2 linked regions of the Homo sapiens genome follow. The protein of the gene in region 1 interacts with the protein of each later gene in a pairwise test. Each region holds a gene or a part of one and is shown in the gene's direction. Other genes may lie near its edges.

Region 1 (3,650 bases):
CTCTATTTTGTATCATGCTGAAACTCAGGATCAAAATGAACATGAGCAAAATTATGTGAGTCTATTCTTTTCTAGAAAATGTAACATCTTTAATGAGAGAAGAATGGATTGTATAAAAAGAAGTTGGCTAAGAAAAATATCCCTAAATGCTTACTTTTAAATACACCTTGGTTATAAATGAGAGGGTCCAGCAATCTTAAAAATCTATTCCAGCCCTGAAAGTCTGTAGTTTAAATGGAGTCCAAAATAAACAAATTTGGGCTATTTTAGAGGCTATTTAGGCCTCTACGCCTTTCTGCTTGCTCTTTTCTCTGCATGACTTCATTAGCATTATTCCTTCCCACTTTTCTGTATCTGGTGAACTCCTATTCACCCTTCAAACCCCCATTTGAATGTGATCTCTTCTGTGACCCTCCAACAGTTCACTGCCTTTATCCCCAGACTAAATGTGGGGAGCCAGTCCGTCATTTGAGTTTCTGTAGCATGTCTCACAAGACTCTTCTCTGGTACAGAGCATTCTGAATCTTGTCTATTTTTCTCACTACAACATGGGCTTCTCAATGCCAGGGGTCACAAACTACTCATTTTTATAAGTTTTCCCCCTTTTGTCACTGAGTACTTAGTGCAGTACTTGACACATGATAGGCAGGTAGTAAATGCAGGGTGAATGAATGAATGAACGAATGAATGTGAGTTTTAATTCTAAGTCTTTCAACTCAAAATCCATTACTCTTTCTAGTTTCCTAAACAACCCGAACTACAGAAATAGAAAAACCACATGCTTCCATTTTTTAAGAAATTCTTATTTATTTATTTTAGAGGCAGGGCCTCACTCTGTCACTTAGGCTGAAGTAGAGTGGTGTGATCATAGCTCATTGAAGCCTAGAACTCCTGAGTTCAAGTGATTCTCCTGCCTCAACCTGCTGAGTAGCTAGGACTGACTACAGGAGCATGCCACCACACCAGGGTAATTTTTTGGGGGGTGGGGTAGAGACAGGGGCCTCACTATGTTGCCCAGGCTGGTCTCAAACTCCTGGGCTAGTGATCCTCCTGCCTTGGCCTCCCAAAGTCCTGGGATTGTAAGTGTGAGCCACCATGCCCAGCCCAATGTTTCCTTTTTTAAAGTTCTTTTCTAAAATTTTACTGAATTAGCAGAAGATCCTACTTCTGTGAGAGGAAGGATAGGATGTTCCTGGCTAACCTCACAGTTTTTCTAAGCAGGAAAAGCTCTTTGGGGGAATATTTAGATAGAAACATTCCTTCTAGACCTAGTATCAGGTTCAGTGGTCTGTTTGCTATTTACTTTCTGTTTCTTAGCAAAAAACTGCCTTTGTTATGAGACTGTGAGATACAATCCGGACCAGTTGACCCAGGAGGGCTTAGTGTTAATCGCCAACTATTATAAGAAGGTGACTGGCTTCCCAGAAGGGAAAGTGAAGGTCACAAGCAGCCACTCAGAATGGCTGGATAGTGCTCCATGTCATGACACACTAGGCTTCTTAGAAACCAGAGGATCCCAGTGAAAATGCAGCTCCCCTGGGCAGCTGAATTTCAGAAGTTTCATTTAACATCAATGGCTTATTTTAGTTCTGCTTTGAGGAAACTGAAAACTTGGATTCATACTAAAAACATATGCAGATGAGGACAATTATTATTACTATTTTATTTATTTATTTATTTTTTGAGACGGAGTCTCGCTCTGTTGCCCAGGCTGGAGTGCAGTGGTACAATCTTGGTTCCCTGCAACCTCCGCCTCCTGGGTTCAAGTGATTCTCTTTCCTCAGCCTCTCAAGCAGCTGGGATTACAGGTGCCCACCACCACACCTGGCTAATTTTTGTTTAGGCCGGGCACGGTGGCTCAAGCCTGTAATTCCAGCACTTTGGAAGGCCAAGGCGGGCAGATCACTTGAGGTCAGGAGTTTGAGACCAGCCTGGCCAACATGGTGAAACCCCGTCTCTACTAAAAATACAGAGGACAATTATTTTTTTAAATAATTTTCTTTGGTTAATATCTCTTAAATGTAATCCTGTGGTGAGGAGACAATGACAGTCCTGGGGCTGTGGCTATTAGCAGCTCCTTGTAGCTGAATGTCTCCAATGGTGCAGGAGGACATGTCAGCACCATGGTCTGGCTCCTGTTGAGCACTGTGAACTCTGTGGGACCTTCCTGCACATCATGTCGTTTGATTTTCTAAAGGACACTAAAGCAGCAGGGAAAAGAATAACTGTATAGGTGGGAAAACAGGTATAAAGTTAAGCTATGTAGTTCATCCTGATATGAACAGCAGGTAGAGGGTAGCCCTGAAAGCAGAAAGCAAGTTTCCAACTACTGACCTAGTGTAGTGCCAATATATCTTATAGCCTAGGTGATTATATTCTTAAAAAGGAATGTATGGATATGAGGAATAACTTGGAATAGGAGATTTTATATATTATTAATATGCTTTTCTATCAGCAAGATAAGCTAAGATTTTGCTACCCAAAATGTAGTCCACTGCCAGCAGCATCAATATTGCCTGGAGTCTGTTAGAAATGCAGAATTTCCTGCCTCTCCCCAGATCTACCAAACCAGAATCTGCATTTAGCAAGGTCTAAGGTGATTTGAGAAGCTCTTAGCTAGACAAGAAGAAAATACCATCTTCACAGATGATTCCCAGTTCTGATGGGATAATTTTTTAAACTTGAGATGAAAAAAAAAACGATCTTTGTATATACTTTTATGTACATGAAATTAGCCTATTCATTCCTTCCGGGAGCCCTGTGAGATACATAGGAATAGATGTTACTGAAATTTAACAGGAGAAGAAACTGAGTTCCCAAGTGGTAAAGTGATTACCCAAAGCCATCTAAGTGTCTGAGCTTATTTAATGACTAGCACACAGTAGCTGTTTGCTAAATGAATGAATAAATGAAACACTAAAAAAAAATTGGGCTGGATCCTGGTCTTCAGACCACTGCACTCTTAGAGATTGGTTCACTCCTGGGGCCACTTCAATGTAGGGTATTTGCTTTATGTCCCCTTAGACTTGACCTTGACCAGATAGTCTTCAAGATGCCAAACTGGGGCGGAGGCGCAAAATGTGGAGCCTGTGAAAAGACCGTCTACCATGCAGAAGAAATCCAGTGCAATGGAAGGAGTTTCCACAAGACGTGTTTCCACTGCAGTGAGTTGGGTGGACACCCTGGGGGCCCCTCAGCATCCGGACAGCATCACAAAATTCACATTGAATCACAAACACTGTATGCCAGTGGTTCTCATAGTGTGGTCCTGGGACAAGCAGCATCAGCATTACCTGGGAACTGGTTAGAAATTTAACTCTTGGGCTCCACCAAGAAAAGATGGTGCTCTCCTGAATACCCTTGCTTCAACTGCTTGCCCAGCTCAGAGGCCATTCATTTTCCTGTAGCTCAACGTCAGAACAAGCTAGCCTGTCACTGCTCTCTGTAGGGAAAACTTTGACCCCATGGCGACATTGACAACATGTGACTTGGCAGAGAAAGGAAGCCAGCACTTATCTGAAGCCAGGATGGATTTGGCTGTCTATGTTGCCCCTTCTGGTCAGCTGTGACTGAAGCCAGCTGTGACTGGTCTTGTCTGAGAGAGAACCTATGTCAGGCAGGGGGGCAACACATGCCAACTCTGTATGTAA
Region 2 (3,650 bases), on another chromosome or scaffold:
TAATTAGGTATTATCTTAAAAGATGTTGTTACATTTATTTAATTTGGCTTGGTTTATATCTAAAAGAAATATATTTAATTTTTTGTCTTCAATAAGTTATGATAAATTGTTGGGCTATGAATTTTTCTCAGTTTGCTGCCTAGTATAAAAATTTAGTGGATAAAGATTCTTGGCCGGGCGTGGTGGCTCACACCTGTAATCCCAGCACTTTGGGAGGCCGAGGCGGGCAGATCACGAGGTCAGGAGATCAAGACCATCCTGGCTAACACGGTGAAACCCCGTCTCTACTAAAAAATACAAAAAAAATTAGCCGGGCACGGTGGCGGGTGCCTATAGTCCCAGCTACTTGGAAGGCTGAGGCAGGAGAATGGCAGGAACCCGGAAGGCGGAGGTTGCAGTGAGCTGAGATCGCACCACTGCACTCGAACCTGGGAGACAGAGCGTGACTCCATCTCAAAAAATAAAAATAAAAAAATATTCTTTACTGTAGTTAATGTGAACTTACTTGCTAAATTATAGTAGGGATGGAGAAGAAACAGTAAGCCAAATACTAAGAAAACAGTTTGGGCCAGGTGCAGTGGCACACGCCTGTAATCCCAGCACTTTGGGAGGCCGAGGCGGGTGGATCACGAGGTCAGGAGATCGAGACCATCCTGGCTAACATGGTGAAACCCCATCTCTACTAAGAATAAAAAAATTAGCCAGGCGTGGTGGTGGGTGCCTGTAGTCCCAGCTACTCGGGAGGCTGAGGCAGGAGAATGGCATGAACCTGGGAGGTGGAGCTTGCAGTGAGTGTGGATCGCGCCACTGCACTCCAGCCTGGGCAGCAAAGCAAGACTCGTCTCAAAAAAAAAAAAAAAAAAAGAGAAAGAAAGAAAACAGTTTGGTTGTATAAGTTCAGCCATCTCATCTTTTGTGATTGAATTATCAGTTTGTGCCTTATCTCGTTTTCTTGCCTGTCCTTCCTCTTGGGGATTCACCTCTGTCCACTTTTCATTAGCATCTCTCCTAGAGAATTACATAAAAGGGATGAAATTCAAACAAGTCCGTTTGACTAATTGGGACCATCTCTGACCAAATGTTTATTGATGCAGGAGACTGAAAATAATATTTAATTTGAGTATTTGGAGAAGGAAAATTCTGGGCATTTTGTTGTTTATGAAAATAAACCTATTAACCTATAACTATTTTCAACAGCTTGTGACAATTTAAATAATTGTTAGTAAATGGAACTAGTCTCCCAACTTCTCAGTTTGCTTGGAAAGGTCGTGTGTTAGTCTATTTTATGCGCCTGTAACAGAATACCACAAACTGGGTAATTTGTAACCAACAGAAGTTTATTTGGCTCATGGTTCTGGAGGCTGGGAAGTCCAAGATCAAGGGGCTGGCATCTGGTGAGGACCTTCTTCTGCATCATTACATAGCAGAGGGCATCACATGGTGGGGGAAGAGGAGGGGGGAAGGAAGAGAAGGAAGGAGGCTGAACTCGTCCTTTTATAAGGAACCCACCCCCTCAGTAACAGCGTTAATCCATCTGTGAGGGCAGAGCCTTCATGATGTAATCACCCCTTAGAGGTCCTACCTCTCAACACCTCAGAATTGGGGATCATGAACTTTGGGGACACAGTCACACCATAGCAGATAGTATTACTGAGTCTACCCTCAGCACTGTGATTATTCCCTGTAGCTTTTAGAGGAAGACAAATGGACTAAAATGTAATGTGATAATATAAGAAGGAAATTATGAATATGACTGGTGTGGTGGTATGTATCTGACCTAGTCTTGCATCTTATCCTTTTAAGATACAGATGTTTTGGTAGGAGTCTGAAACCTGTTCAGGCCTATTAATTCAGGTTATTCTGATCACCTCTAAAGGGGAAAAAAGAAATTTGCAGGGATTGTCATAGTAATGTCTTTAAAAACCTTCTAAAAAGTGTGCTAGCCCCATTGGTTGGCCACTTTTCTCTCTTAGTATTAAGCTGTGTGTCTTTCTCACGGACAGGAAGGAGCTGACTGCCGATGCACGGGAGCTGAAAGGGGAGCTATACTGCCTCCCATGCCATGATAAAATGGGGGTCCCCATCTGTGGTGCTTGCCGACGGCCCATCGAAGGGCGCGTGGTGAACGCTATGGGCAAGCAGTGGCATGTGGAGGTGAGTTCTAAATGGCAAAGGGTAACCAATCCTTTCAAATCTCCATGATTAAGGGGTAACCAATACTTTCAGATCTCCCATGATTCAGGGGTAACCAGTACTTTCAAATCTTCATGATTCAGGTGTCCTGGCAAGATTAGGAGACTCTAAAGATTAAACGTGGACATTTTAAAGACAATTGACTTTGCTGACAGCTAAGAATATATAATGTACACTGCTTTTGTGAATGTCTCAGTAATGATACAGGATGTGTACTTTTGCTCCTAAAGCCTTCTTGAAGCAGGAAGTGCCATGGTCTGTATCCAGCAGCAGCTCCTCCTTTATAGGTGCTACTGAGATGCTCACCTCTATTCTCTTTTTGGGCTATTATAATAGGCTATGTCTTAAAGTAACCTTCAAAGACAGACACCTGAATTACAACTGCAGAAGTATTATATTATGGGGCCACCTATGGCCAAATGAAATGACTGTCTCAAACTTTCCTTCATCTTCTCTGAAAATAGGTTAACTCTGGTATTTACTTTATTAGATATAAAATATGGCAATTCAAAAATGACCTATAGCAATTTTTTTTCAGCATTTTGTTTGTGCCAAGTGTGAGAAACCCTTTCTTGGACATCGCCATTATGAGAGGAAAGGCCTGGCATATTGTGAAACTCACTATAACCAGGTATTGACCTTAGTCACTGGATGCTAGATAGACTTTTATGAACCTAAGCTTATCAGTAGTTTAGCTACAAGGAAATCTCTTGGAAGATGTACATTGTTCAGTAGAGATTTGTTTTTAACTTTTTATTTGGGAAATAATTTCAGACTCAGAAGCTAACTATAAAATATACAAAGAATACCTGTATGTCTTTCATTCAAGTCCACAGTTTGCTTTATCATTTCCCAAGCTCAGTCTTCCTGTGTAAAACACATAGTTACGTAAATATTATATACAAGTACGATGGCTGTTTTGCCAATAAGTTCATCATACTCCTTTATCCCTAAATACTTCAGTGTATATTTCCCAAGAATATGGGACTCTCTAACATAATTGTAGTTATCAATATTGATACCGTACTCTAACCATTTATTCCAGTTTTGTCACTTGAGTCAATATCCTCACAGCATTTTTTCCACTCCCAGACTGGACCCAGCCTCTGGCTGTGATGTTTCTTTAGCCTTCTTAAATCTGGAACGTTTCCAGAGTCTTTTAAAATTTTTGATGACATTGACATTTTGGAGGGATGCAGAGGGCCCCTAACCCCTTTTTAATAGACTACTTTCCACTTGGGTTCACCTGGTGCTTCTCTGTGCTTAGATGAGGTTATACACAGCAGGTTGTGGCCTCATACAGTGGCAGGGCATCTTCTCAGAACCTTGCCCCTGGAGCATTTTATACCTCTCCTGCCCTGGTGATCTCCCAGGCATGGTGCTGGCTGATAACATCACTGTGAATTACAATTTCCTTCCCTCCTCTGTAAGAAAGAAGCAATCTGTGGGCAATCATT

The links. Proteins that work in one complex are often made in the same cells at the same time.
Region 2: the proteins of CSRP3 (region 1) and LIMS1 interact in a two-hybrid assay, tested with the Homo sapiens proteins (one large-scale study listed by BioGRID and IntAct).

The regions. Positions count from the first base shown.
Region 1 is NC_000011.10:19,191,851-19,195,500, reverse strand, and holds part of CSRP3 (cysteine and glycine-rich protein 3), read left to right. Parts: intron 1-3,024; 5' UTR 3,025-3,052; coding exon 3,053-3,164; intron 3,165-3,650. UniProt on the Homo sapiens protein: Positive regulator of myogenesis. Acts as a cofactor for myogenic bHLH transcription factors such as MYOD1, and probably MYOG and MYF6.
Region 2 is NC_000002.12:108,673,875-108,677,524, forward strand, and holds part of LIMS1 (LIM and senescent cell antigen-like-containing domain protein 1), read left to right. Parts: intron 1-2,003; coding exon 2,004-2,154; intron 2,155-2,731; coding exon 2,732-2,824; intron 2,825-2,920; exon of another isoform or gene 2,921-3,056; intron 3,057-3,439; exon of another isoform or gene 3,440-3,617; intron 3,618-3,650. UniProt on the Homo sapiens protein: Within the IPP (ILK-PINCH-PARVIN) complex, binds to F-actin, promoting F-actin bundling, a process required to generate force for actin cytoskeleton reorganization and subsequent dynamic cell adhesion events such as cell spreading and migration.